Homo sapiens: one gene and its partners. The protein of the gene in region 1 purifies or fractionates together with the protein of each later gene. This does not show direct contact. Each region holds a gene or a part of one and is shown in the gene's direction. Other genes may lie near its edges.

What was found.
Region 2: the proteins of CELA1 (region 1) and GLI3 purify together in Homo sapiens (affinity purification with mass spectrometry; 2 studies listed by BioGRID and IntAct, with this or other methods). This does not show direct contact.
Region 3: the proteins of CELA1 (region 1) and ZNF318 purify together in Homo sapiens (affinity purification with mass spectrometry; 2 studies listed by BioGRID and IntAct, with this or other methods). This does not show direct contact.
Region 4: the proteins of CELA1 (region 1) and KRABD3 purify together in Homo sapiens (affinity purification with mass spectrometry; 2 studies listed by BioGRID and IntAct, with this or other methods). This does not show direct contact.

Annotation. Positions count from the first base shown.
Region 1 is NC_000012.12:51,343,574-51,350,599, reverse strand, and holds the start of CELA1 (chymotrypsin-like elastase family member 1), read left to right. Parts: upstream 1-3,920; 5' UTR 3,921-3,961; coding exon 3,962-3,977; intron 3,978-4,722; coding exon 4,723-4,805; intron 4,806-6,746; coding exon 6,747-6,847; intron 6,848-7,026. UniProt on the Homo sapiens protein: Serine proteases that hydrolyze many proteins in addition to elastin.
Region 2 is NC_000007.14:42,045,190-42,052,321, reverse strand, and holds part of GLI3 (transcriptional activator GLI3), read left to right. Parts: intron 1-3,625; coding exon 3,626-3,831; intron 3,832-6,791; coding exon 6,792-6,938; intron 6,939-7,132. UniProt on the Homo sapiens protein: Has a dual function as a transcriptional activator and a repressor of the sonic hedgehog (Shh) pathway, and plays a role in limb development.
Region 3 is NC_000006.12:43,366,551-43,374,473, reverse strand, and holds the start of ZNF318 (zinc finger protein 318), read left to right. Parts: upstream 1-5,051; 5' UTR 5,052-5,086; coding exon of another isoform or gene 5,087-5,108; coding exon 5,109-5,507; intron 5,508-7,923. Other genes in the region: atherin-like, read right to left, coding at 4,353-5,051, 5,087-5,110.
Region 4 is NC_000007.14:149,710,526-149,717,967, forward strand, and holds the start of KRABD3 (protein KRBA1), read left to right. Parts: upstream 1-4,425; 5' UTR 4,426-4,529; coding exon 4,530-4,541; exon of another isoform or gene 4,542-4,713; coding exon of another isoform or gene 4,714-4,824; intron 4,825-7,442.

The DNA of each region.
Region 1 (7,026 bases):
TAAAAATACAAAAGTTAGCCAGACGTGGTGGCAGGCGTCTGTAATCCCAGCTACTCGGGAGGCTGAGGCACAAGAATCGCTTGAGCCTGGGAGGCAGAGGTTGCAGTGAGCTGAGATTGTGTTTCAGCCTGGGTGACCGAGTGAGACTCTGTCTCAAAAAAACAAACAAACAAACAAGAAACTAGCTTCTTCATGGCATTTTCCTTAGTCAAGCCTGGCCTGGCCCTAACAACACCCGTATTCTTCCTTAAAACCCACCCCTCTGACCACTCTCAGCTAACCTAAGGCCCCTACCTCTTAAAACCCTGCTGCTAGCCCTGTGCTACTATCTCCCGGCTCTAGGAGTCTCTCACTCTAGCATTAAAGAGCTAGGCCTCTCTGGGGATCTGTTTCCCACATGAAGAGTACTGGGGCCATTGCCACAAATAGCTAGATGTCCCAGAATTTATTCTTATTTTTAATTACCAAAGTAATACTGTGCCAGCCTGGCCAACATATCGAAACCCCGTCTTTACTAAAAATACAAAAATTAGCTGGGCGTGGTGGTGGGCACCTGTAATCCCAGCTACTCGCAAGGTTGAGGCAGGAGAATCGCTTGAACCTGGGAGGTGGAGGTTGCAGTGAGCCAAGATTGTGCCACTGCACTTCAGCCTGGGCAACACAGAGAGACTCCATTTTGTTTTGTTTTGTTTTTTTTAAAGTAATATTGTGGAGAAAAGTCAAGTGATCTAGAAAAGTGAGGTTTAAAAAAGTGAAATTTGCTACTTGGGAGGCTCAGGTGGGAGGATTGCTGGAGCCCAGAAAGTCAAGGCTGCAGTAATTTGTGATCGTGCCACTGCACACCAGCCTGGGTGACAGAGAGAGACTCTGTTTCAAAAAAATAATAAAGCTATATAGTATTCCATAGCAGGGTTAAACCCAATTTATTCAGTCTTCCTCTACTGATGAATACTTAGCTTTTTTCCAATTTTGCAACAAGCTTTGTGACAAACTATACTGTAACCCACAACCTCGAACATTTATTTTTCTGCCTGTTTTTTTGTTTTGTTTTGTTTTGAGACTGGGTCTTGTTTTGTCACCCAGGCTGGAGTGCAGTGACACAATCATGGCTCACTGCAGCCTCGACCTCCCATGCTCAAGGGATCCTCCCACCTCAGCCTCCCAAGTAATGGGACTACAGGCATGCGCCACCATGTTTTTTTCATGTTTTGTAGAGACAAGGTCTCATTATGTTGCCCAGGCTGATACCAAACTTCTGGCCTCAAGCAGTCCTCCCGCCTTGGCTTCCCAAATTGCTGAGATTACAAACATGAGCCACCATGCCCGACCAGTGTTTATCTCAAAAGAATTCATTCCTAGAATTGGTATGCAATGTCAGAAGAAATGCAATGCCTCAAAATTTAAGTCATTGTCTGGCTGGGCGGGTGGCTCATGCCTGCAATCCCAGTACTTGGGGAGGCTGAGGTGGGTGAATCACTTGAGCTCAGGAGTTTGAGACTAGCTTGGGCAACATGGTGAAACCTCGTCTCTACAAAAAATACAAAAATTAGCTGGGCATGGTGGCTGGCACCTGTAGTCCCAGCTACTTGAGGGGCTGAGGTGGGAGGATCGCTTGAGCCCAGAAGATGGAGGTTGCAGTGAGTTGAGATCATGCCACTGCACTCTAGCATGGGCAACAGAATGAGACCCTGTCTTAAAAAAAGAAAAAATTTAAGCCATTGTCTATGCCTAACCCTAAGAGTAAGATTTTTTTTTTTTTTTTTTTGAGATGGAGTCTTGCTCTGTTGCCCAGGCTGGAGTGCAGTGGCACAATCTCGGCTCACTGCAACCTCCACCTCCAGGGTTCAAGCAACTCTCCCTGCCACAGCTTCCCAAGGAGCTGGGATTACAGCTCCCAAGCACAGGGACTACACCACAACGCCTGGCTAATTTTTGTATTTTCAGTAGAGACGGGATTTCACCATGTTGGCCAGGCTGGTCTGGAACTCCTGACCTCAGGTGATCTGGCCCTGCTGTGATGTAAAGAGGTAACCTTCAGGAGGCCCTCAAGCCTCCTCTTGGACTCCTCATCCTGGGGCTAGAGGCCAGAGGAAGCAGGGAAGCGGGAGGAGAATGACCAAAGAGGCCCCGGGTTCCCTAGCGCAGCTCACCCCTCTTCCCTGAGTGTGCCAGAATGCTGGAGGGCAGGCTGGAGAGCAAGCTCTTCAGGTTATCTGAGCATCAAAGTGCAACTCCTCTGAACAGCTCTAGACACTGAAAAAGTGACTGTGCAGATTCCTTCAAAGAGCATTTTCCAGGTTTCTCCCACCCCTGCAGCCATGAAGCTTGGATTCTGGAGTGTTTAGGCAACAAAAGCCCTGGGTGGGCAGGTGATGGTCCTGCTTCTGTCTAGGTTCCTGGCTTCTCCCTGCCTAATTCCAAACCCCATGCGTTGCTACCATGACTGCTGCACCCACAGTCCTCTGCTCTGGAGCCTGCAGTGGCTCTGATCATTTTGTGGCCAACCCAAGGGTCCTCTGCCCACCTCAAGGCACATTGCAACTCTTTTCTCTCTCTATTTATTTATTTATTTATTTATTTATTTATTTATTTATTTATTTATTTTGAGACAGAGTCTTGCTCTGTCTCCAGGCTGGAGTGCAGCAACCTCCGCTTCCCAGGTTGAAGCGATTCTCCTGCCTCAGCCTCCAGATTAGCTGGGACTGCAGAAGCGCACCACCATGCCCAGCTAATTTTTGTATTTTGTTTTTGTTTTTTTTTAGATGGAGTCTCGCTCTGTCGCCCAGGTTGGAGTGCAGTGGCGCGATCTCGGCTCACTGCAAGCTCCGCCTCCCGGGCTCACGCCATTCTCCTGCCTGCGCCTCCCGAGGAGCTGGGACTACAGGCGCCTGCCACCACGCCCAGCTAATTTTTTGTATTTTTTTAGTAGAGACGGGGTTTCACTGTGTTAGCCAGAGTAGTCTCAATCTCCTGACCTCGTGATCCGCCCGCCTCCGACTCCCAAAGTGCTGGGATTACAGGCATGAGCCACCGCGCCCGGCCAATTTTTGTATTTTTAGTAGACGGGGTTTCGCCATGTTGGCCAGGATGGTCTCGATCTCTTGATCTTGTGATCCGCCCGCCTCAGCCTCCCAAAGTGCTGGGATTACAGGCGTAAACCACCGCGCCCGGCCGCAACTCCCTTCTCTCTCCTCTACGAACTGTGATGAACAAAGCCTTTCATCTCCTGCAGGAACCTCGGCTCCTACCCTCGTTCTCCCTCTGCCCTCCACCCTCCATCTACCCTCATAGCCCTCAGACTGTCTTCACATCCCAAGGATCCCCTCCTCTACCCTGCCTCATATTCTCCTCTGGGAGCCCCTTCTTGGCTCTCCATCTGAGAGGGCCCAAGCCTGTTTCTCAGTACTTTCCTCCCCCAGAATTATCTCCACTGCATCTATTTGGCTTTTGTGTCTGCATTTACACCTATGCCTGCATCCTGGGGGCATGTGCCATCTCCCTCTTTGGGCAGAGAGAGTTGCTGTGTCTTCCTTGCCCTTGCTAACCACTCCCCCCTCTTCCACTATCCCCCTGGCCTCCAGCTGCTAGTGCACAGGGCAAGTCTCTGCATTTATGGTGCCACTGAGGACAACGAGAGAGTGATGGATGACAAGGGGTGCTCCCTTAGAGAAAAACCAGCCCTGGTTCTCCATCTTATTTCTGAAAAAGAGTTTGTTGGATGCTTTTCAATTAAAAGCAGATGATTAATTCAGCCCTGGCCTTGTTCTGTCTTTGAATAACAGATACATTAGTTTACTTGAAAAGAAATATTTTCATTTGTATTTCCATGTCACTTGTGATTTTCCCTGCCTTGCACCCTCAGCCCTGCCAGTTGGCAAGAAGACAGTCAGCTTTGCTGCTAAGAGGAGTATAAAGAGGGCTTGGTCCAAGCAAGAAGGCAGTGGTCTACTCCATCGGCAACATGCTGGTCCTTTATGGTAAGTGGATATGGTCCAGTCGCAACCCTGGTCCTTTATGGTAAGTGGATCATGTGGCCTGAGGTCTATAGGGAGGGGGACTTGGGCAGGAAGGTCAGCAAATTTTCCCTAAGTCCAGGCCAGCACCCTGTCCCAGGGCAGGTGGGACGCTCTGCCTGCAGAGCGTCCTTTACTCTCCTGGAGGCCAAGATAGAAAAGGTCAGGGCCACTGGCTATTCAGGCCCCTCTGGGTGGCAGGTCCCTGGGCCACAAAGCAGAGAGAAGCCCCATCTGGTAGTGGGGTGGGTCCCTGGGCTTCCCCACCACCCCCATTGACAGGAGGACTTCCTCAGCAGGTGCCTGGCTGGGGTGTGCACTGCAGGCCCTGAACCCTGGAGAATCTTGCCAAAGCATTAGGGGGCTGGTGGGGGTCAAAGAGTGGGGGGGGGTCTCTTCAGGCCAAAGGGTGATCTTGAGCAAAGAGGAGACCACAAGGAGCCTCTGGGGCCTAGCCTGGTGGTTTGAGAGAGGTCCTTCATAGCATGCCGGAGTTCTGGGAACACCTGGGGGAAACAGAAGGCACCCAGGCACCCCTGTTTTCAAAAGGGGCTCAGAGAACTCACAGCTGGGCCCCTCATTCGTTAGAGAGGAACTGTGAATTTGCAGACAAGGCTAACATTCCTCAAAGCACAATCGCCACCCCCCACCCCTACCCCTGGCTGACCCCATGCTTAGTCATCACTCACTTTTCTTCTGCCCCACAAAGGACACAGCACCCAGGACCTTCCGGAAACCAATGCCCGCGTAGTCGGAGGGACTGAGGCCGGGAGGAATTCCTGGCCCTCTCAGGTGGGTGTTCCTTCCCAGCCCCAGACTTCCACCCAAATAAGAGCTCAGTGCATGACATAAGGTATCATGTGTATTTGTGCATGTCCCTATCAACAAGCAGCTCTCCAATTGTCTAGGTTCTCGATTTTAAAGATGGATGGGATCAGGCTTAGGTGGTTTTCTAAATGCAAAAGGCTTGGAGGAGGGGATTTATACACCAACCACAGTCCCTCTTCAAGGCACACACCCAAACACAAGATACATTTATATTCTCAGCGACAGCACTTGTGCCACGCAAGAAAGACTGGGTGCCAGACAGTCACCTTGGACTCCACATACCTTGAAACTCACACGCACACCACTCCACACTGTGTGTGTCACAATGCTTGCACGCATGTGCGCGCACACACACACACACACACGTACAGCATGCTGCTTAGTTGGCTATTTAGAGTTTCCACTTTGCTAACAGGGCAGCTGGGCCCTGATTTAAGTGATCTAAATATGTAAACCTGGCAAATTAACTGATGAAGATCCACACTTTGAGAAGATATCACTGCAATCAGAGTTTTAGCTTATAAAAGTCTGAGCCCCAGTTTTCAGGAGTAGAGCTATTACATAACATGAGGTGCTAGAAGAAGAGACATGAACTGATAAAAACAAACATCCTATTGGTATTTTTTTTTTTTTGAGATGGAGTTTTGCTCTCATTGCCCAGGCTAGAGTGCAATGGCATGATCTCGGCTCACTGCAAACTCTGCCTCCTGGGTTCAAGCAGTTCTCCTGCGTCAGCCTCCTGAGTAGCTGGGATTACAGGCGCCTGTCACCATGCCCAGCTAATTTTTGTATTTTTAGTAGAGACGGGGTTTCACCATGTTGGCCAGGCTGGTCTCAAACTCCTGACCTCAGGTGATCCACCCGCCTCAGCCTCCCAAAGTGCTGGGATTACAGGCATGAGCCACAGCGCCTGGCCTCCCATTGGTATTTCTAAGTAGTCCCTGAAGTGGGGAGACAGGAGATGTCTTGAAAACACTAAAGGTACAGCTCTGGAGACCTAAGCCTGTTGGGCTTAGGTGATGGAGCAAATCTTTGCCTATAGTTCCTCTTTTTTGGGGGAGGAGAGGGGGCGATGGAGTCTCGCTCTGTCACCAGGCTGCAGTGCAGTGACGCTATCTCAGCTCACTGTAACCTCCACCTCCTGGGTTCAAGCAATTCTCCTGCCTCAGCCTCCTGAGTAGCTGGGACTACAGGTGCATGCCACCACGCCCGACTAATTTTTGCATTTTTAGTAGAGATGGGGTTTCACCATGTTGGCCAGGATGGTCTTGATCTCCTGACCTGGTGATCCACCCGCCTTGGCCTCCCAATGTGCTAGGATCACAGGCGTGAGCCATGGTGCCTGGCCTATAGTTCCTCTTTAAGGGAGAACAGAGGTAGAAGGAGTTCCAAAAAAGGAGTTACAATGGGTTCTAGGTCCATTGCAACAACCTAGAGAGATAATGCCAAATACACTGTGTGCCTTTACTCCTCCATCCATGTACACAGCAAACATCACCAAGCGATGGAGCATCCCTTCCTGCTGGCCCCAGAAGCATCTACACACCCCTTATCAATGCCACACTCCAGGTGGCCACTACCAAGCAATCAGTAGCAATTGGCAGGTCAGATGAAACCTATTTGCCATCTCTAGCCTAGAAAGAGAATGTTTTGAAGGACAGCAGGACTTTAAGGAGGTGACATGTAGTTTGAGGCAAAGTCTTTTATATTTAATTATTTTTGACGTTGTAGAGGCGAGGTCTCACTATGTTGCCCAGGCTGGTCTCCAGCTCCTAGGCTCAACTGATCCTCCTGCCTCAGCCTTCCAAAGTTCTGGGATTACTGGCATGAGCCACTGCAACCGACCTGGGGCAAAACCATTTGAGAAACACCAACCTATCCCTTCTTTCTTTCCTCCCCATCTAGATTTCCCTCCAGTACCGGTCTGGAGGTTCCCGGTATCACACCTGTGGAGGGACCCTTATCAGACAGAACTGGGTGATGACAGCTGCTCACTGCGTGGATTAGTAAGAAAAACAAAGACAAGCTTTCCTGGGCCCCTGGAAGGGGAAGGGGCTGACCTTCTGAAAGAGGATATAATTTTGCCCTCTCTGGACAGCACTTCAGGGACTGGGCAGTGGCTCCTTTCCTGTTCAGGGCCTGCAGGGAGGTAGTATGGTGAAAGTACAAACTTTGGAGTCAGGGA
Region 2 (7,132 bases), on another chromosome or scaffold:
AGATTTGCTATGGAAAGGGGATTCTTCCACACAAAAAACCTGGACACAGATGTTTATAGCAGCTTTATTCATAATTGCCAAAACTTCGAAATAACCAAGTTTTCCTTCAGTAAGTGAAAGAGTAAATAAGCTATTCCATACAATGGAATATTATTCAGTGCTAAAAGGAAATGAACTTTGAAAAAATATGGAGGAAACTTAAATGCATATTACGAAGTAAAAGAGGCCAATCTGGAAAGTCTACATACTGCCTGACATTCTGGAAAAGGCAAAACTATGGCGAGGGCAAAAAGATGAGTGGTTTCCTGGGGTTGGGGGCTGGGAGAAGGAAGAAGGGAAGAATTGGTGAAAGAGGATTTTTAAGGCAGTGAGACTGCTCTGTATGATACTGTAACGGTAGATACATTTGCCCAAACCCGTAGAAAGGATAACACCAAGAGTGAACCCTAAACTATGGACTTTGGGTGACGATGATGTGTGAGTGTAGGCTCATCACTCGTAACAAATGCACCACTCTGGTAGAAGATGTTGATAATGACAGGAGGCTATTTATATGTAGAGGCTGGGGGTGGGGGTTATATGGGAAATCTCTGTACTACAGCTCAATTTTGCTATGAATTTAAATTGCTCTAAACAAAGTCTGCTAACAAAAAGAATGTCTTAATATTTCAATATTTGAAATCACACAGTATGTTGCATTTGCTACCCCTACTATGCATGTATATATGTTTATATGTGTGCATATATCTGTGTACATATACACATGTGTATATAAATATGTTTGTGTATATGTGTATTATGGGTGGAATATGTTAGCACAGTATGTGATGTATATGTCACATATGATTTTACATATGGATGTATGTGTATATTTGTATATATGTGTGTGTGTGTATGTGTTGAGCATTCAGTATATACTAGGCTCAGTACATGAGACTTTACTCTTGTCAACTTCCTAAGACTCCCACGAGGTTATCTTCCCCATTGGACCTTTAAGGAAGAGGAGAAGGTGAGTATCAAGGCTGAGGTCCACGCACATTGAGTCCCACTGCTTGGATACATCTGTATCTAGAATTCCTGATGACCCCCTTATGACTGCCTGATGCACCTGTATCTTTATCTTCAAATCCTGGAGGAACCCTCCTTTCCACTGTTGCTTCTCAGCAGTATGTAAAAGGACCGTAGAGCCCAGTGCTCCTGCCAGAGAAGATATGACCAGGTCTTGGAGCCTCACTCGTGGGAAGCTGGTTTAGTAGGTACCTTCAGTGTCCTGGTGGGAAAGGCTTGAATCCAAGTGAAGCAGTGACAGGGACATCAGACTTGATAGACTTTTGTGAGGAGAAAACAGCTTCCTAGGCTTTCTTTGGGATTGATGACCACCCTAGCCTGGCCGCTATAATTTTTGTGTTTTTCTAGATGCTGATTGGTTTTCCTGTGCATAATTCTCCAAAATAGAATTTGGACCTCTAGGGATATTCTTACCACTCTTCTCAACTCTGGAATTTTGGAGAAATAATAGGTTTCAATCTTTGGGTAAATCAAGAAAAGCCAGTAAGAAATGTCACTGCCCACCCTGATGTTTAGTTCATGTTGCTCAGACCAAGTTATTCCTGGATTGCAAAAGCTGGCCCAGGAGGCGTCATCTCATGGCTTTCTTGAAACAGCTCTTCTGCATTCGGTGGCACCAGTCCCTCAGTGGAAATCTATAAACAAGTCTGTGTTTAGAATCAGATTGGAAGGATTGCTTGTCCTTTCTTGTGAAGAATAAATGAATGAATTAGAGCATCCCCTGTACCTTCTAAGGTAGCAAACACATCTAAATACGGTGTAAGATTTAACCAATGGCGGACACGTCTAAATGGAGCTTAGGGGCTGAGTTAACAAAGAACAGAAAGCCAACTTGTTTTGTAGTAAAGAGCTAAAATAGGAAAGACTAATAGGTTATGTTGATTTCTATTTAAACAAGCCATTTTACTAATTTCTGATTGGGTGTGAAAGCCTCAAGCTGTTTTGAAAAGAAATAGCTATTTGCTGGTGGTGATTTCTTACTCTTCCCATGTGTAAATTTAGAAAACTTTGGATTTTTATTTTGCTTTCCCAAAGTAGCATCTAAGTAACAAATAAAAAGCCTCATTTTTTTTTTAGTTCAAAATGAAAAAAGAGTCAGAAGGAGAAAGTGAGAAAATCCACCCCCACCACCATATTTCAACTTCTTTCATTTTCTACTGAGAGAAAATTCATTATCTGATCTCTGATTTCATTTATTTCAGTGTCTGCGCTGTGCACTTAGTGGAGCTGGCTTTTACCAAGATTATATTCTGACAGGGTGATGGGGGCCGGGCTGTGCGTGAGCATTTGCTTTGCAAGGAGAAAATGTGTTTCCCCCTCCCTTTCATTTCACTCCTAAAGCCAGTGGTGGAAGAGGAATTTGCTGTTCTCAGTTGATCTCTCTCTATCAGGGCCTCCCCTTCCTATGGCCGCACCCTCTGTGAATGAGGAAAAGCGGGGAGCACAACTGTTTAACCTGTCAGAGCCAGTTCCCTGATTATCCATGCCAAATGTTTTCCGTTAGAGAAGGAACTTGGTGGTCCAGGAGGTTATGCAGACTGGCCATTCTAGAAGTGGCTGTCTCAGGGTGTGGCTGTGGCTATGGGGCAGCAGGTGTGAGGGGATTTTGAGGAATCTCTCTCCAGAAGCAGATCAGGATATCGTGGTAGCAAGGTGTGTTTTAGAATTTATTTTTATTAACCAAAAGCCTACATTCTACCTTAGCTCATTATAACCGACGCAAGGGCTTGATTGAAAATGCATTCTTCCCCAACTTTCTAACCCGGGAGCACTTAGTTGCTACTGCTCACTGAACGTGGCTCATCGGGATGCCTCATGGAAAAGGGCTTGAGCAGAAAGCTGATTCCAGGTGCTGCTGCACAAAGGGGAGGAGTTGCCTTCCAAGCACTCACACCTGGATCCATAAAAGTCATTTTACTTACCACTGCGAGGCCCTGGGAAGTTAAACAGACATGTGCCTGGATCTTTAGAGTGACCGATTTCCCATTTCTAAGCAGACTTTTGCAATGGGTCTTCTTCCTTACGGACAGCTCTGCCATGTGCATGATCAGGCTTCCAGACCAGACAAATTTGGGATTGTATTCTTTCATTCTGTTCTGTTCTGTTCTTTTCTTTCCCTTTCTTTTTTCTTTTCTTTTCTTTCTTATTTTTATGCAACACCATGCTAGTAAGAGGTAAGTTTTAAATGGTAACATTAATATTTGGGTCAAGTGGAAAATACAATTGTAGCAACCACTTTAAGCCCAGTTGCCTGTTATTTAGAATTTCTTCTCATGGAAGAAGCCATAGGTTGACCTTTATTTTACTATTTTGGAGTGCAATGAAGTTTCTCAGAGATCAATTTATTTTCCCAAACAATTGCATAGCGATGCTCTGCCTGCATTATATCATGCTGATTTTAAAATAATAGTACTAATATGTATTTGCCTGCAGTTTTTTCCACAAGGCTCCTTTGAATTCACTTAAAATCTTACTTATTTTCTTTCAGAGACAGCCTCTGCCTGTGGAGATATTTGTCTCATGCATACCCCTTGTATCTGGTTTTCTTTGTACCCAGGACTTCCGCCTTATCTAGTAGCCCTACGTATCCGGACCTGCCCTTCATTAGGATCTCCCCACACCGGAACCCCACTGCTGCTTCCGAGTCTCCCTTCAGCCCTCCACATCCCTACATTAATCCCTACATGGACTATATCCGCTCCTTGCACAGCAGCCCATCGCTCTCCATGATCTCAGCAACCCGTGGGCTGAGCCCTACAGATGGTAAGTCCAGGATGGATTCTGCTTCTGGAGATCATGCAGCCTCCTCCCCGCTCCTCACTCGGGACGTGTATAAAGTAGACCTGATGTTTAGTGAGTGTTTCCCATGTGCCAGGCGCTGTGCTCTGTGCCTTACATGCATGATTGCGTTTCAGTTTTGTAACACCTCATTGGCAGTGGTGTTATTATCTCCATTTTCATGTCAGAATAGCAGCGTGCAGTGGGGTTTACTTGCAACGCAGTCAATCCCATGGCTAGTAAGGGGCAGAGGTGGAATTCATTGAAAATGTTTCTGATTCCCAAATCCCTGCTGGTAACTAGGGTTCTGTTCTGCTGCTTCACATATGATTAGACTGGTCCTGTAGCCATTCACACACGTGCATGTGTAACATGAGTGTTTTACTCACCTTCTGATGAACACTTTTCTGTTCTGTGTGTCTGAGCACATTTATACAGATGCGTCTGTTAGAGGAGGGCTTCCCAAACTCTAGTGTGTCTATGAATCACCTGGGGAGCCTGATAAAACGTGATTCTGCATCAGGTGGGATCAGGTGGGGCCTGAGATTCTGTGCTCCTCAAAAGCCGATGATGTCAGTGCTGTTGGTGCCTGGACCACACTCTGAGTGGCAAGGTCTTAGAAAACATCATGGTCCAGGGCTGTTGCCTGTGCTTTCTATTCTTGACCATGCCACATGAAAATCCGAAGAAGTATGTACTGGGAAAGGAAATGAGCTTAGACTTTCTTATACTTGTTGCTCATTTTAGGCTCTTAAGGATCGAATTCCTGTTGGTTCTGTTAGTCCCCCCATTACTTTCCACATGACTCTTCTTAATTGGAGCTGTGTATTCTCCTGGTGTCAACTTATAAACTGGTCCTTTGATTCAGGAAAAGTATTTTCCATATCACGCACACATAGGAATTCACTTGCCCAATAATCACTGGAATCTGAATCAAGGTCCAGAATTGCATCACCTATTAATTACAGGTAGCAGGCTCTGAATTCTTTGCAAGAGATCGCAAATCACCACTGCCTGTTCCACATCAGAGAAACACCAGGCATTTCATTTCACTGAGCAGTGCTTGATGCGACTTCCATGCCCTATCCACATTCTCTAGGTAGACGCCTTCCTGAGGCTGGGTGTGCATGGTGAGAAGCTGCATGAAGTGTCTCAGGAAACATCCACTCACTTGGGTTTTCAGAAATAGCTTTCCTTCAGTAACAGCCACTTTTTTCTTTTTTGATTCAGTGCATTGAATTTACTGGTTAATAATAGTAATACAGGTAGCTAAAGAATAAGTTTTGCCCTTTGGGCAGGATTAACATTTTATTTTATTTTGAGAAAGGGTCTCACTTTGTTCCCCAGGCTGGAGTGCCTTGGTGCAATCTCAGCTCACTGTACCCCAGACCTGCTGGGTTCAAGTCATCTTCCTGTCTCAGCCCCCTAAGTAGCTGGGACCACTGGTGTGCACCACCACGCCTAGCTAATTTTTATATTTTTTGTAGAGACAGCGTTTCGCCATGTTGCCCATGCTGGTCTCAAACTCCTGAGCTCAAGCGATCTACCCACCTCTACCTCCCAAAGTGCTGGGATTACAGGCATGAGCCACTGTGCCTGGCCAAGATTCACATTTTAAAAATAAAAATCAAATATGAATTAGATTTTCTGCTTCAGATTTTATTTTGCACTTGAAGAACTGGAGAATCATCTCCTTCAAGTCCTTGGGAGTTGGTGGAAATGACTAACAAGGAGAATAGACTGAGGGAGAGAGGGAGGCTAGCTGACAATGGACTTGGAATTATGCCTGGCCTGCAGAAATTTATTCGGGCTAGTGGAAAGTCATACCACGAGTTAAACTACTGAAAGCACTCTTATCATCTGCTTTGTGTAGCATTTGATGACGAGTATATATATCACATTCTTTGACTGGTTCATTTGCCTTCCTTTTCTTGCCTCTCAAGAATCCAGTTAATATAATCAAATAAAGTAACATGATAAATATTTCCCTTGTGGCCTAAAGTTTTTTTCCTTAAATCTCTATCTTTACCATGTATCATGGATAAAAAGTATATGAAACAAATATAAAATACCCACAAACCTATCACTAGAGTGCTGGTATTTCTAGATAATAATCGTAAAACTTTTATTGATTGAATGCTATGTGCTAAGTGTGCTACATACATAATTTAATTTTTGCTCCTGACGACCTCATGGAGCCAGTTTAAATCCAGATCTCTATGAGTCTGGAGGCCACCCTCAGAACTGCTACAATGTCTTGCTGCTTTTGCACGAAAATTGGCAGGTGGAAACCGACTATTATCCTGTTAGAAAGCTGAGTCTTGGCAGTAAATTGCTCCAGATTGATAGGTATATTTTCTTTTTGATTTTGTAATGAAGAAAAGGAAAAGAGAGCTTTTAAATTATGGAATGTAAAATTGTAGCTTATCATTCAGTTGTGTTATTAAAGCTGTGCTGCCTTTTTTCATACTGGTAAACCCTGACTTTTCATGTGAGTGAGAGTTAACTCAGACACTCTTGTCAGAAAGCTTAGAAAAGTATTTTAAGTATGTCTGGAAAGATATCATAGTCTTCTAAGTTGTCTACTATTGTAAGAAATGCAAACATACAGTGATTTGATATAAAAATGATTTTATTTGGGGGGCAAATGTGGTTATGTACATATATACATTTTAATCATTCTGATTTGTTGATAATTTCTTAGACCAACAACAAAAACTTAGTAATGCATTTCACTTTTTTCTATTCCTTTCCTTCAGTTTTATTTTCAAATAAAAGATGTTTCATGGAAGTAAGAGCACAATTTGAGTTAAAGGAGCTTTACTCTAATAAGCCATAAAAGGAATTGCTGATGTGGGTTGTGTAATGGACTCTGAGATGCCTCAAGAGAAACTTCTAGTTGACCTTCTTTCGCTAGTAACCATACATCTCTTGTCTCCTCCTAGCGCCCCATGCAGGAGTCAGCCCAGCAGAATACTATCATCAGATGGCCCTGCTAACTGGCCAGCGCAGCCCCTATGCAGACATTATTCCCTCAGCTGCCACCGCCGGCACGGGGGCCATCCACATGGAATATCTTCATGCTATGGATAGTAAGTGACGGGGCTGGTTTCTAGAGTCTTGGGAAATGGCAAAGGCAACTTTATGAAACAGAGAAGAAGATACAAAGATTAGGTGATTGTGTAACTTTTTGATCTGGAGGAGAAAGTGGAACCACCACTATCTGGTGCTCTGGTTCCCTTCGTTTTCTAGAAGCTTCCACAGATTTGGACATCCTGAGACCCCC
Region 3 (7,923 bases), on another chromosome or scaffold:
CTTTTCTTTTTTTGAGGTGGAGTCTCACTGTGTCACCCAGGCTGGAATGCAGTGGCAAGATCTCGACTCACTGCAACCTCCGCCTCCCAGATTCAAGCGATTCTCCTGCCTCAGCCTCCTGAGTAGCTGGGACTACAAGCGTGCTAAGGTAGCCAGACTACCATGCCCAGCTAATTTTTGTATTTTTAGTAGAGACAGAGTTTCACTATGTTGGCCAGGCTAGTCTTGAACTCCTGACCTCAAGTGATCCGCCTGCCTCGGCCTCCCACAGTGTTGGGATTACAGGTGTGAACCACTGCGCCTGGCCAGACTCATATTTTCTTTCTTTCCTTTTTTTTTTGAGATAGAGTCTCCTTTGTCACCCAGGCTGGAGTGTAGTGGTGTGATCTCGGCTCACTGAAAACTCTGCCTCCCGGGTTCAAGCTATTCTCCTGCCTTAGCCTCCTGAGTAGCTGGGATTACAGGCACCCGCCACCATGCCTGGCTAATTTTTTTATTTTTAGTAGAGATGGGGTTTCGCCATGTTGACCAGGCTGGTCTCGAACTCCCGACCTCAGGTGATCTGCCTGCCTCAGCCTCCCAGAGTGCTGGCATTAACAGGCATGAGCCACCACAGCTGGCCTCAGAATCGTATTTTCTAATTAGTTATTACTGGTGTATAGGTAATATTGGTAATATTAGGATATTACCATTCCAGTCACTGAGCAGGGAGTGTCTAGGCTCAGTTCTTGTTTAAAGGCTGTCAATATTTTTATCTTCCCACCCACATGGCACATTCCCATGAAACTTAGCCCCAAGCAGAAGGCTGGCAGTAATTTGTTCAGCTCGCATGTAGGGACAGGCATGTCCTTGGCTTTAAGCTAAAAATCTGTCCCAGGTCCTCCACCTCCTGAGGAGCACTTACATTTCCATTATCTCACAGGAGCCAAATCTCTAACTGCTACCCTTGATTCTAGACTCATTTCAAAGCCCATGAGGTCCATGGGGAGGTGGTTATCTCGTTTCAGAGTGTATTAGCTGTTTTGAGCTGCTGTAACAAAATACCGTAAGGCTGGGTGGCTTCAACAACACGTGCTTATTTCTTACAGTTCTAGAGGCTGGAATGTCCAAGACCAAGGTGCTAGCCAATTTAGTTCCTGGTGAGTGCTCTCTTCCTGGTTTGTAGACACTGCCTTCTCACTGTGTGCTTGCATAGCAGAGAGAGGGCATGGGTGTCTCTTCCTCTCTTTATAAAGACACTATCATCATGGGGGCCCTACCCTCATGACCTCATCTGACCCTAATTACCTCCCAAAGGACTCTTCTCCAAATAGCATCACATTGGGGGTTAGGGCTTTAACAAATGAATTTGGAGTAGTGGTGGGGGAAACACAATTCAGTCCATAGCATACATCCTAGTCTCCTTACTTTTCTCTTTTAAGGTTTTATATGTCATTGCGGTATGTCTACTATGGGGTGGTATGTGTGTATGTGTGAAAGCCTTTACACATTTCACCATCTTCATCAGAAGTCTCATAAAAATTTCTTGAATTGATGACAGACAACAGGGACGGTACGTTAACTGGGTTCTTCCTATTGTCTCTGGAGTTTCAGCAAAGGCCTCAAAAATAGAAGGCAATACAACAGATGCCAGGTACTCCCATTCCCCCATCTTAAAGGGTGATGATAGAATATGAACTAGTCTGCCAGCATTACTAATCATCCACCCTCAGTCTATATAAGAGAATGAAGATTGTGTCGGACAGTTACCTGTGGGCTCTGTATTTCCTCTCCTGCCACTCTGGGGCGGGAGAGGGGAGCCAAGTGAGATAAAGCCTTCTACTAGAACCTCTTAGAATGTTTGGCTTGTGTCTCCTGGAGTTTGGAGATCCACAGGGATAGTGTCTTAACCCCTACCTGGGGGAAGTCCAAAAGCAAGATGCTGGCTAACTGTGCTGGGATGGTGAATAAGGTGGGAGCCATGGGGAGTGAGCTGCACTGCCTTCGCCACTGGGGCAAAGATGCATGAGTTATCCTGTGAGCCAAGTGGACACACAAGCTAACGAACTTGGAGTCATTTAAAAGAGATCCTTCCCAGGCCGCGTGCGGTGGCTCATGCCACCTTCCCAGCACTTTGGGAGGCCGAGGCGGGCGGATCACGAGGTCAGCAGATCGCGACCATCCTGGCTTACACGGTGAAACCTCGTCTCCACTAAAAAAAATACAAAAAAATTAGCTGGGCATGGTGGCGGGTGCCTATAGTCCCAGCTACTCGGGAGGCTGAGGCAGGAGAATGGCGTGAGCCCAGGAAGCGAAGCTTGCAGTGAGCGGAGATCGAGCCACTGCACTCCAGCCTGGGCGACTGAGCGAGACTCTGTCTCAAAAAAAAAAAAAAAAAAAAAAAAAAAAACAAAACAAAATAAAAGGGATCCGTCCCATGAGAGATAACCAGAGAGGAAAGGGACTCCTGCCACGGGAGTGAGTTTTACATGGGGTAAACCTCCTCCAGAAGGCCAAAGACTTGGGGGAGGGGAGTCATAGACAGTGAACCAGAGGAGGACCACTGCCAGCAAGAGAGTTCTAAAAAAGCCCACAAAGGTGCATAAGAGAGAAAAGCCAACATTTGTGATTCCTCCTTGTCCATAGGGAACCGATTTTGGAAGGTAACAGCATCCTGCACTAACCAGGAAAGTCTGTGTTCTTTCCCTTCAATCCCTTCTCCTCCTGGGAGGAGGGGGTCAGAAATAGCAGCTAGCCAGTGGGAGAGGAGGAGCAAACTTTGAGGAGCAAAGGCAGGGATGTGGAGAAACCTACCATACCACTTTTAATATAGCAAGCTTCAAGTCTGAAGCAGGTAAAAGCAGGGGTAGGGGAGAACCTTTAGCCTGAATAAAGTTTAAAGTTTTGTTCTGTACTATATATTTTCTACTGCAATATGACTACTGTCATGACTGAAAAATACTTGAAAAGTGAAAGGATCTGCAAGAGATTTCATGCAGGATACAGAACTATGCATAGAGCAAGTGTGAAGGGGAAGCAGAAGAGTTTTCTGATTATACACCGTGTCTCCCCCTGTCTTGAAACACCCCAGCTCCTTTGATAAAAATATTCAGTATTAGAAATGGGTTGAGGAGTAAAAGTTGATACAGAATATAACAAACATGATTTAAAATTTATTGACTCCAAGTATCTATACACACTGATTTACATTTTTTTCACATTTATTAAGTCCCACCAAAAGTATGGGTAACCAAAATCCATATATACTCTAATAAAGACAGGGCATACACCTCTGGCATATTTTTATTATTTTTTTCATTAAAATGTTATTGGTTTCTTATTTTATATAAATTATATAAAATGTGAAGCTGGGTAAAAGTAGTCAACTAGTAAAAATTTTATACATTTTTACTGAGTATATGCCATTATAAGAACGTATGGAAATGGATATATATATATATGGATGTATTTTTTGAGAGAGGGTCTCACTCTGTCACCCAGGCTGGAGTGCAGTGGCATGATCACAGCTCACCGCAGCCTCAACCTCCCGAGTAGCTGGGGTACAGGAACGTGCCACCACACTCGGCAAATTTTTTTTTTTTTTTTTTAGAAATGGAGGTCCTTCTACGTTGCCCAGGCTGGTCTCGAACTCTCAGGCTCAAGCAATCCTCCTGCCCCGGCCTCCCAAAATGGTGGGATTATAGGCGTGACCCTTTGCGCCTGGCCCACTTTTGTATTTAGGATGCAGGGCCCTGAGATTGGCATCTAGGAAAATTCTGGACTTAGGCCAGGGGAGGGGGCATGCCTGGATCTCTTACAAAAACTTGCCACGCCTCCAGTTGGTCATGATGTGGGCCCCTGGTAATGAAGGACCTCCACCATGACCACAAGTACTTTAGTCAGAAAACAGCTCGAAAACGTGTGAAGAGAGTCCACCAAACAGGCTTCGTGTGAGCAACAAGGCTGTTTATCTTACCTGGGTGCAGGCGGGTTGAGTCCGAAAAAGGAGTCAGCAGAGGGTGGTGGAATTATCATTAGTTCTTATAGGTTTGGGATAGGTGTACAAAGTACATTCTTAAGGGCGGGGGAGAATATTACAAAGCACCTACTTAAGGGCAAGGGGGAGAATATATCCTGTCAGTTAGGGTGGGGCAGGAACAAATCACAATGGTGGAATGTCATCAGTTAAGGCTATTTTCACTTCTTTTGTGGCTCTTCAGTTGCCTCAGGCCATCTGGATGTATACGTGCAGGTCATAGGGGATATGATGGCTTAGCTTGGGCTCAGAGGCCTGACAACGTCTATTTTGGGTTTGATTCTGGCCCACCACCTCCACCTCGTACTTTCCTATCCTCAATTTCAACCTCTAGAAATTAGGCAAACTGGAAAGTAAACTGATGCGGGTCGTGTTGCTTCAGCTGGGGACAGGATTTCGGTGGGCGCTCCTGCCGGGGTCCGTAACCTCCCACACAGCTAACGTTTACAGGCCCGTTTATATTATCACGAATGGTTTTCAACCATTTCGTGTCCATCCCTAAATTAAGAGGCTTGAGGGGCGGCACGAAAGAGCGAAGACACCTCCGCACGGTCTCCAAACCCCTAAGTCCAGAGGCCTGGAGCATCCCCGGAAAACCAGATCCCTCTCCAGAGAAGCCCTTCCTTCCGCTCCGCCCACCCCGCGCGGAGGCCACAGGGGTCACGTGGCGGCCGCGGGAGGGGGAAGTGGGCGGCTCTGCGGCCGCCATCTTGAGGATTCGGAGGCGGGGCGTGCAGAGCTCAGGGCGCGCGCTTCGCTTCCCCTCCCCTCGCCCAGCCTCGCGCCGGCGTCTGTGCTCCTCCCCACTTTTCTTGGTTCCTGCGGCCGCTCCCTGAGTGGAGGAGCGGGGAACCCCGGAGGCGGGGGGGGGTGTGTCGGACGCGTGCTCGCGCCCTCCAACCGCCAGCCGCGGGGGCGCGCTCGGCCGGGCCCCCGGGGCGACGCGGGGCCGAGGGGAGGGGGCTGCTCCCGCGGCTGAGGCGGCGCGCAGCGGCCGAGGTGGCGGCGGCTGCAGCTGCGGCGGCGCGCTCCGAGCCTGCGTCTAGGGCGCCCCCGGGTCAGAGCTGTCGCCGTGGCCGCCGCTGCAAGAACCATGTACCGCAGCAGCGCTCGCTCCTCCGTCTCTTCCCACCGGCCTAAAGACGACGGCGGGGGCGGCCCGCGCAGCGGCCGCAGCTCTGGCTCCTCCTCAGGCCCGGCTCGCCGCAGCTCACCGCCGCCTCCGCCCTCCGGCTCCTCGTCGCGGACCCCGGCTCGCCGACCCCGCTCGCCCTCAGGGCACCGCGGCCGCCGGGCCTCGCCGTCCCCGCCACGGGGTCGTCGCGTCTCCCCGTCCCCGCCTCGGGCCCGTCGCGGCTCCCCGTCGCCACCGCGGGGCCGACGACTCTTCCCGCCGGGCCCGGCCGGCTTCAGAGGCAGCAGCCGGGGGGAGTCCCGCGCCGACTATGCCCGGGACGGCCGCGGAGACCATCCAGGCGACAGCGGCAGCCGGGTAATCCCACCCCTCGTCCAGGACTCCCTCCATCCCCCAGTCCCCTCCCCCGGAATTCCCGTTTCCAGAAACGCCCGGGGCCTCCAGACCAGGGTCCTAAGCGCGAAGCCTCCGGCCAACTCCCTCGGGGATGCCGAGCCTGGAGGCTTCTGTCAGACCCGGGAGCGTTGACACAATAACGGACTCGGGAGCGCACGGGCGTCTCGTCGGGAGTGCGCGCTCCGTTCCTTAGGAATAGGCTGTTTCTCTCATGCCGGGTGAGGTGTGGAAAGTTTGCCAAGGCGAGGGGCATTTCGTCCAAACCGTGTGTCTTGGTACTTTTTGTAGAGTTGATGTGTCCTCGGGGTTCCGTACTTTTCATCCCCTTACACCTGAGCTGCCTTCCTGGATCTTAGGGGAAAAAGCCGAAATGTCCGTTTTTGTGGCGAGTTAGGGACGCTTGAACCCTACCAGGCTTTACGTCTAGAGTGTAAACTGTTAGCTTAAATGAATTGGAGCTGCTGCTTCGGAATGAAGTGTGCAGGACCACAGTCACTGCCATAGCCACTACCTCTTATCGAGTTCTATGTCAGGAATTATGCCTAGCCTTTCACTTTGCACATTATTTTAACCCTCACAAGTCTTTGAAGTGAGGCAGTTAATACTATTCCTTGTTGTACAGCCGAGGAACCAACCCAGAGAGGTTCAAGTAACTCGACTGAGGTGACACGGCTAAGTGGTGGAGCTGTGCTTCAACTCAGATCCGCCTGGTTCCCCAAATCCATGATTTGAACCTCTATGTTTCACTGCTAGAGGAACGGAGCATGAGTTTAAGTTTAGTTTTAGAAATAATGTTGACCTTTAACCATAACCACCACCCCAAGAGATCCTCTAGGTAGAGTCTGGTTTTTGGGAATTTGTTTTATTTTTAGTTCATCAATCTTTTTATTATTATTATTATTTGAGAAAGAGTCTCACTCTGTTCCCCAGGCTGGAGTGCAATGGCATGATCTCAGCTCACTGTAACCTCCGCCTCCGGGGTTCAATCAATCCTCCCGCCTCAGCCTCCCAAGTAGCTGGGATTATAGGCGCCTGCCATCATGCCCGGCCTCTTTTTTTAAACTTAGTAACAAAGTTCTGCTTTTTTGAGTGGCTCTCTAACATGTATGTAAGTACTGTGAGTACTTTGGTCATGGTTAAATTGATTTGTCACTATGTTAAGATTTCCAGTTGAGCAGTGCCAGTGTGGGTGGCAGTCACTACAGAGGAAGGAAGAACAGAATGCTTGTTTACACAACCTCCTTTTCTTCTCCAGTGCGCAATGTATTTGCTCCAGTCTTTTCTGTCTGAGTAAATAGCATCATCCGTTGCTTACATCAGAAACAGCCATTATCTCCCTTCTTCCCACATCTAATTTGTCAGATTACCTCATCTGTCTAACCCGTTAGCTTTACCTCTAGAATACATCCCCAAAACTGCCATCCTCCTGCCATCACTCTGGTCTAAGCCCTATTACCTCTTGCATGGATTGTTGCATTTGGCTCCTTTACACTCCGCCCTTGCTACCCTCCAGTTTGTTCTGGAGGTTACACAGAAATCAAATTGATTTTTAAGCCCTCATTTTATACATTTGACATGTATTTATTGAGCATCTACTTTGCATTAGGACTGTTCTGGACTACCCTGGGGATACAACAAAGTACAAACCAGAAAAAAACTCCTATCCTTATAGAGTTAATATTCTAGCAGGGAGAGTTGGATAATAAGTTGAAGTTAGAAATGCGATGGTATGTTAAATGTAATTAAGTACTAAGAAGGACTAAGAAGTACTAAAATAGGGCCGGGCGCGGTGGCTCACGCCTGTAATCCCAGCACTTTGGGAGGCCGAGGCAGGCGGATCACGAGGTCAGGAGATCGAGACCATGTTGGCTAACACGGTGAAACACCGTCTCTACTAAAAATACAATAATTAGTCGGGCTTGGTGGCGGGCACCTGTAGTCCCAGCTACTTGGGAGGCTGAGGCAGGAGAATGGCATGAACCTGGGAGGCGGAGCTTGCAGTGAGCCGAGATCGTGCCACTGCACTCCAGGCTGGGGACGACAGAGCAAGTCTCAAACAAAACAAAAAAAAAAGGACTAAGAGCAGAGAAGGGAGTTACAGTTTGTGTGCGTGTGTGTGTATGTAATATAGTGTTGCTCTGTCACCCGGGCTTGAGTGTAGTGGTGTGATCATAGCTCACTGCAGTCTCAAACTCCCACGCTCAAGCGATCCTCTCACCTCAGCATCCTGAGTAGCTGGGACTACAGGTGCGTACCAACATCCCAGCTGATTTTATTTTAAAAAAATGTTTTGGTGTGGGGAGGGATTTCACTATGTTGCCCAGGCTGGTCTCAAACTCCTGGCCTCAAGTGATTCTCCTGCCTCAGCCTCCCAAAA
Region 4 (7,442 bases), on another chromosome or scaffold:
ACAAAGATGTGACACCTCAGATTTAGGACTCACGAGTTCCAAGAAAGATAAATAAAAGATCCATACCTAGCCACATTGCAGTGAAACTTCATGATACCACAGATAAAGAGATTTTTTTTTTTTTTTAGATGGAGTTTTGCTCTTGTTGCCCAGGCTAGAGTGCAATGGTACGATCTCTGCTCACTGCAACCTCTGCCTCCTGGATTCAAGTGATTCTCCTGCCTTAGCCTCCGAGTAGCTGGTATTACAAGCATGCACCACCATGCCTGGCTAATTTTTTTTGTATTTTTAGTAGAGTCGGGGTTTCTCCAGGTTGGTCAGGCTGGTCTCAAACTCCTGACCTCAGGTGATCCTCCCGCTTCAGCCTCCCAAAATGCTGGGATTACAGGTGTGAGCCACCATGCCCGGCCAAACAGATGATTTTAAATGAAGCCAGAGAAGTTAAATCATATGCAAAGGAATAATTAGACTGACAGCAGACTTTTCAATAGCAACAATGAAAGTCAGGAGACAATGGAATAAAATATTAGAAGTGTGAAACAGTTCTCTCCCTGGCTAAAGTATCATTCAGGAGTGAGAAAAATGTAAGACATTTTATATAACTGAAAGTATCCACTTCTAAAATATCCTTGCTGAAATAAATTTTAAAAGTTCTGCTTCAGGAAGAACATTGAACCCAGAAGGAAGAAGAAAGAGGCAAGAAAAAAGAGTGAACAAAGATAGTGGTAAGCACATTGGTAAATCTAAACAGCATAGATTGTATAAAACAAAAACAATGACTTCAAATATCAGGAGAGAGTCTTAAAAACAAGATGTAACTAAAAAGAACAATAATTACACACAAGACAGAAGGGGAAGAGTGTGATTAAACTCATATTCAAAAAGCTTTCTATCATTTGCGAGAAGATCAGAAGTAGTAATATTAGATTCTATTAAACCAAATATGTGTGTAAAATTACAGAGTAACCCCCAAATGAATAAAAAAGGAAAGCATAACTTTCAAATCAGTAGATTCATGATTATGATAGAGATTGTCAGACTGGATTCAGCAGCAACAACAAAATCTAGCTACATGCTCTTATATGACACACATCTGAAACATAAATATACACAAAGTTTGAAAGTAAAAGGACAGGAAAAGATATATCAAAGAAATACTTGCCAAAATAAAGTTAGTGTAGCTGCAGCAATATCAAACAAAATGGATTATAGACAAAGACTATTATTAGGGATAGTGTTACTTTCTAATAATAGAATGAACAATTCTCCAGGAAAATACTACAATTCTAAATTTGTAAGCACACAGCCTCCAAACACATGAAGCGAAAATTCTCACAAATTCAGGGAGAAATTGACAAATGCACAAACTTGATATGAGATTTTAACACCTCTTTAGTAACTGATAGTTCCAAATGCAAAAAGATGATAAACTATAGAAGGCATAAACCACATGATTGATAAGCTTGATTTTACAGCTCTAACTAGATCCTACACCAATATTAGAATATATGTACTCTTTTAGGCAAACATGGAACATTTTCAAACATCTATTGCACACTTGGCCACAAAGCAGTCTCAGAAAATTCTAAAAAATCAACATCACTTACTACATTCTCTGACTATAAGGCAAAACTCAAAAACAAAATAACTCATAAAAAGATTCGTATTTGGAAATTAAAAAGTACTTTTAAATAATCTCATGGATGGAAAAAGAAATAATAATGAAAATCAGAAAATATTTTAAAGTTGCAGCCATTTTCACATGGAGGACTGGCCAGCACAATTTGCCTTTAGATTCATTTGGGAAAAGTGCCGACTAGTTCACCAAAAGTCAATTCACAGAATGACCAGATAGCCAAAAGCCAAATATGGTAAAAGCTAAACCACTGAATATCAACTTGCTAAACAACCAATCTGAATTATTGAAATTTTTTTTTTTTTTTTTTGAGACAGGGTCTTGCTCTGTCACCCAGGCTGGAGTGCTGTGGTGTGATCTTGGCTCACTGCAACCCCCCTCTGCCTCCTGGGCTCAAGAGATTCTCCCACCTCAGCCTTCCAAGCAGCTGGGACTACAGGGGTACACCACTGCACCTGGCTAATTTTTGCATTTTTTGTAGAGATGGGGTTTCATCATGTTGCCTAGGCTGGTTTGGAACTCCCAGGCCCAAGCAATTCACCAGCCTTGGCCTCCCAAAGTGCTGGGATTACAGGTGTGAGCCACCGTGCCTGGCCCCAGCCAAGGAATTTTTAAAGATGTGTTTCAGCTCCACTCCTGCCTTTGTCTGTGTCCAGAGCCATCCAATAAACCTGGTTCAGGACAGGTCTTCACAACTATTTTTTAACGCACACACACGGGCTGAGGTAAATACAGGTCTACAGGGTCAAAGGCGCAACTAAAATTTGGGGGATAGGGGTGCCAGGAAGTGTCTCCATAATTTAAATAATTGGCCATGCAGCAAATTTCATGTTGGTGAACTGCTTTTAGCGACTGATGGTCCACAAATGGGGCAGGAAGCCTAGCCAGGAAGTGGACGTTTGAGTCAAAGAGGTGCCAAGAATCTGCACAGCTTAAAACAAAGGTGCATCTTACTTGGATAGAGATTTCTTTCTACAGGTGTTTAAGTTTAAGGCAGGGGTCCCCAGTCCCTGGGCTATGGACCAGTACCAGTCCTGGCCTGTTAGGAGCTGGGCAGTGCAGCAGGAGGTGAGCTGCGGGCAAGCCAGGGAAAGCTTTATCTGTAGTTACAGCCACTCCCCCTTGCTCGCATTACCCCTGAGCTCTGCCTCCTGTCAGATCTGCAGGTGCTGGATTCTCATAGGAGCCAGAACCCTGTTGTGAATGCGGGATCCAGGTTGCGGGCTCCTTAGGAGAATCTAATGCCTGGTGATCTGAGTTGGAACAGTTTCATCCCAAAACAACCCCCCTCCCAGTCCATGCAAAAATTCCCTTCCACAAAACCGGGCTCTGGCCCAAAAGGTTGGGGACCCCTGATTTAGGGGGTTTTAACGTTTAGGGATCCCGGGCCGGAGGGTGGGCGGTGGAGAGGAGCTGGGAGCAGGAACACATTACTGTAAGGAGCCCGCCTCACCTCGGCACGGAGGTGGGACCCGGCCTAAAGCCCAGGAGGCGACTTACCCTGAGGGCTGTGGCCTGTAGGGCTCTTGAAAAGTTGGACTTTTAAGTTTTCCCTTTCCGCGAGGTGGGGCCTTGTGATATCTTCAAATCCTTGTTCAGCAGGCTGCGCACACGCCGGTCCTGTGTCTAAGGTGTCTCGGGTATGACCGAGGGGGCTTTGCCCGAGTGGGCGTGCGCCTTTCCTCGGAGGCCGGGACGAGGGGTTGTCGGCATCGTACCCGAGTCCGTGATCATGGCCGGCGCGGCTGCAAGGGCCAGCCCCGGGCGACTGGGCGAGGAATTCCCTTTCCTTCCCTCCGATATTGCCCAGGCAGAGCGCTGTCTGGGCCGCAAGGTCTGGACGGGGCTTCCAAACTCAGAGCAGAGTCTCCTCTGCGTGGGACCACAGCCTCCCCTTCCCCTCCAAGCTTCTGTCTGGCACAGCAGGCTTAGCCCCGCAGGCCCCCTTCCAGCAGCCTTCTATAAAAATGACGGGGTCCTTCTCCAGACAGGAAAACCAGGCTCGCTGCGCCTCGCCCGCACCCCCGGAGCGCTCTCGCAGCGCCCGCCCAGACCAGGCCTTCGAACTCGTGAAGCGCAGGGGGAGGCAGAGGAGAGTGGGCCGCGCTTCCTTCCCGCATCACACGTTTATTTGAGGCCTACTATGTGCCAGGAACAACTGGGGTTACCACCCCAGCAAACAGGCACGCAAAATGTGACACGAAGGTAGGTCATGGCTGCGGCGAGCGGGGGCGCGGGCGAAAGACGTGAGGATGTACGGGGGCCTGGCAGCTGCTCTGTCCCACCCACGCCCGGCCGGACCCTCGACCCCTTTCACTCCAGGTCGGGTTTCCCCGACCGCGGCCTCTGGGAAAGATGGGTCCCTCTTCATCCCCACCATCAGCCCCTGGCACATGGGACGCGCTGAGTGGTGGCTGCGGGAATGAATGAGTGATAAGCGGCGCGTACCCGCGGGCTTGCACGCCCACAGCCGCCCCGGCTGGTCTCGGCGCGCAACCTCTACCCGCAGCTGGGGGCGGGGACGAGGGGAGGGGGCGGGGACGAGGCCCGAGCCAGGTCCGCCCCGCCCTGTCTCCGCCCCCCGCTTCCGAGCCGGCGCCGCGGCGCCTTCTGGGAAGTGTAGTCCGCGTCTGCGCCGGCCGGCCGGGCCGCCGAAGCCGGGGGCTCCGGGCGGAAACGGCACCACCCACCAAGGGATGCGAGGCGCTCGGGGCGGGCTCAACGAGGCCGGGGGCGGGCCCGGGCGCGCCCACCCCCGCCCCTCCCCCTCGGCCCAGGCCCCCGGCCCCGCCTTCTCCTGCGCGGACCTGGGCCGCCGCCGACGAGGGTCGCGTGCGCCCGCGCCAGGGCCCGCGCCGGAAACCGAGGAGTGGCGGGGAGGCTGAGCCCGGGGATGGCGCGCCAGGTAAGGCAGGCGGACGCGCGGACCCCTCGGCGCAGTGCGGCCCCGAAGGCGGTAGGGCGAGAAAGAGCTGGGACCCCCCCGCAACTTCGGGATCGGCTGGGTGAGGCTGGGCAGGCCTGATGCTCAGGGGTTCGTGCCGGGAAGTTCAGGTCCTCGGACAACCTCTCTCCAGCTCTCCGCCGCCGGTACCCACGGCCCAGTCTCCACCTGGGGAAACCCCCTTGGCGTGGCTTGTTTCGTTACAAGTTATCCTGGTAGAGTGGGCATGAAGGCCTCGGAGGCAGTGAGTAAATCTCATACTTCTGTTCTTGGTGGAATCCTGGATCCCGGGGGCTGGGGACGTGGAAATGGGGAGAAACAAAGATAGAACAAACCCCAAGTTTTGTCTTGGGAAGCCTGCAGGTAAGGCGTTTAGATCTGAGAACTGGAGGGAGAGCCCCAGGCCGTGACAGCCTGGGCACCGTTTGGGCTAGGTTGTGTGTGGGCTGTGACGATGCTGGGAAACTCTGGTGCTGATATCAGTGAGGTATCAGGTATCTGGTGCTGATACCAGCAACTGCTCCACGTTCTTCTGGATGGGCACCTGGAGCCAGTTCTGCAACCGTGGTGGCTCCTGAGCTTTGGCCAGTCCGAGGCAGCCATGGATGGGGGGCAGCGTGTGACTAGGCAGAGCAAACACTGTGCCAGGCCCTTGGCGTCATTAGTGCCCCCAAGCATTTGGGGAGAAGGGAGAGGCTAGGCAAATTGGATGTTGTTGGGCAGGGACAGTCAAGTGTCCTTTTCAGGTCTGGCTGCACAGTTAAGTAGCCTAGGGACACCCTGGTTCAGACATGCCCATGGCCCCATCCTAAGGCCTCCTCATACCACAGTTTCCTGTTCTGTAAAGTGAGGAGTTTGGGCCATTGACCTTTCAGATCTGATGAGGGGAATATCCTCACACTACGTAGCTTCATGGAGAAGGTGGCCAGGAGTGACCTTGGGGAGTGGTAGGTCACTGTAAGGTGGAGAGGAGCAGGGAGGGTTCCCAGAAGCCCAGGGCAATGTGAGCACAGCCTCCAGGTTGAGAGGTCCTGTGGCAGGGTCTGATCAGGGAGCCCGAGCCTGAGGCCCACTGGGAGAGCAGGTCTAGGTTGGGAAGGACTGTGAGAGAGGGGCAGGTCCAGCAGGCACTGAAGCTGCAGTTTTTGTGCTGGGCTAGTGACACGGTGGAAGGGTGATGTTAGGAGGACCAGTGTGCAGCTATGAGCTAGGAGGCTGCCCAGTTACAAGAGTCCTGGGTCAGCCCAGAAAGCTTTTCTCCATTGGTTGGGGGAAGGAGGTGAAGTGGGGCCCGAGGAGGAAGGCCGGTGGTGTGTGGGCAGAGCCAGCCAGTGGTGGCCTTCCTCCTCCCGAAGATGAGTTTTGTAGCCCAGGTGTTTGCACACTCACACTTGCTCACTCCCTCACACACAAAACCCTCACTCTTTGCTTTTTCTGGGGAGAGGGAGGCCACTGGCAGAAGCGCCTACCCTGGCCACAGTCAGTTCCCATTCTCATTTTCTAAGAATTTTATCACAAAACAGTTTGTCTTGAGGCTGAGATGGTGAGAGGCCTGGAAAGCATCTCTTACAGATTCCTGGAAGAGCTGGGATATATTTAGTCTGGAGCGAGAGAGACACCGGTGGTCAGGAGCAGTATGTGGAAGAGCTCAGCTGGCAGGCTCAGACCTGCAAGCGGGCATTAGGCAGACAGGTCTGGCTGCAGTATTACTAATCATAGCACTTAATATTCATAGTCCCCGCATTTGTTCTAGGCACTATTCCTGTATTTGTTTTGTCTTCACAATACCTCTATGAGGTAGGTTGTTATGATCCCAGTATTACAGATGAGTTCACTGAGGCCCAAATAGGTTAGGTTTGGCTGAGGTCTCATAACTAGTATGAAACAAGGCAGGGATTGGAATTCTGGCAGCCTGGCTCCTGAGGCTAGGCCCCAGTCACCGTGCTCTGCCCCGGTCTCTGGGTCCGGAACCTCTTAATGGCCACATCAGGTCAGCAGTGGTACCAGTGCAACCAACATAGCTGGTATCATGTTCTTACCTAGAGCTCAGACCTGCCTTGCCAGCTCTGTGTTGAGCCATCAGAATGTCATGTGGGAACCCTCTGCCTGCCATGAACCAAAATTCCAGACTCCCAGAAGGAAAGCAGGGGTGTGGCACACACCACGTCATTTGCTCAGCCTAGGCACCTTGAGCCACTCCCATCATTTAGGGAATGGTGGGAAGCCTCCTGACACCTAAATACCTGGAAGCCAGCCTGAGCCCTCCTGGCAAGCAGGCCTTCCTAAGGACAGCGGTCTAGGGCTGCTCTGCACGCTCTTCTGCATAGACCCTGATGTTGGCTACATTTTCTCTGTTCCAAGATGCTAGGAAGAAATGTAAATAACTCTTTGAGAGAAGTTTTGGAGGGTGTCTGAGACTGTTCCTGAGAGGGAGTGACCATACCTGGGCCAGAGCCACAGAGGTTTGCTCAGGGAGAGTCTGCACATCGAGGCAGGAGGCAAAGGCTGCAGCATCTCACTGCCCATCAGCCTCTGGGCCTCCGGGCCTCAGGCAGGCAGTCACGGGAGGGGCTGCCCCTTGCCAGGGGTGTAGATGCAGCCTGGCCAGAGGGGAGCACTGGTAAGTGTGACTGCATGGGACAAGTTATCAGCTGTTCAGGGAGAACAGGCAGAGAGCCCGGCAGTAAGTGGACAACAAGGCTGCCGGTTAGTGGCAGGGACAGTTTTTTGTTTTTCTTGAAACAGGGGCTGGAGTACAATGTTGTGACCTTGGCACACTGCAAATTCTGCCTTCCAGGTTCTCCTGCCTCAGCCTCCCAAGTAGCTGTGATTACAGACACCCACCACCATGCCTGGCTAATT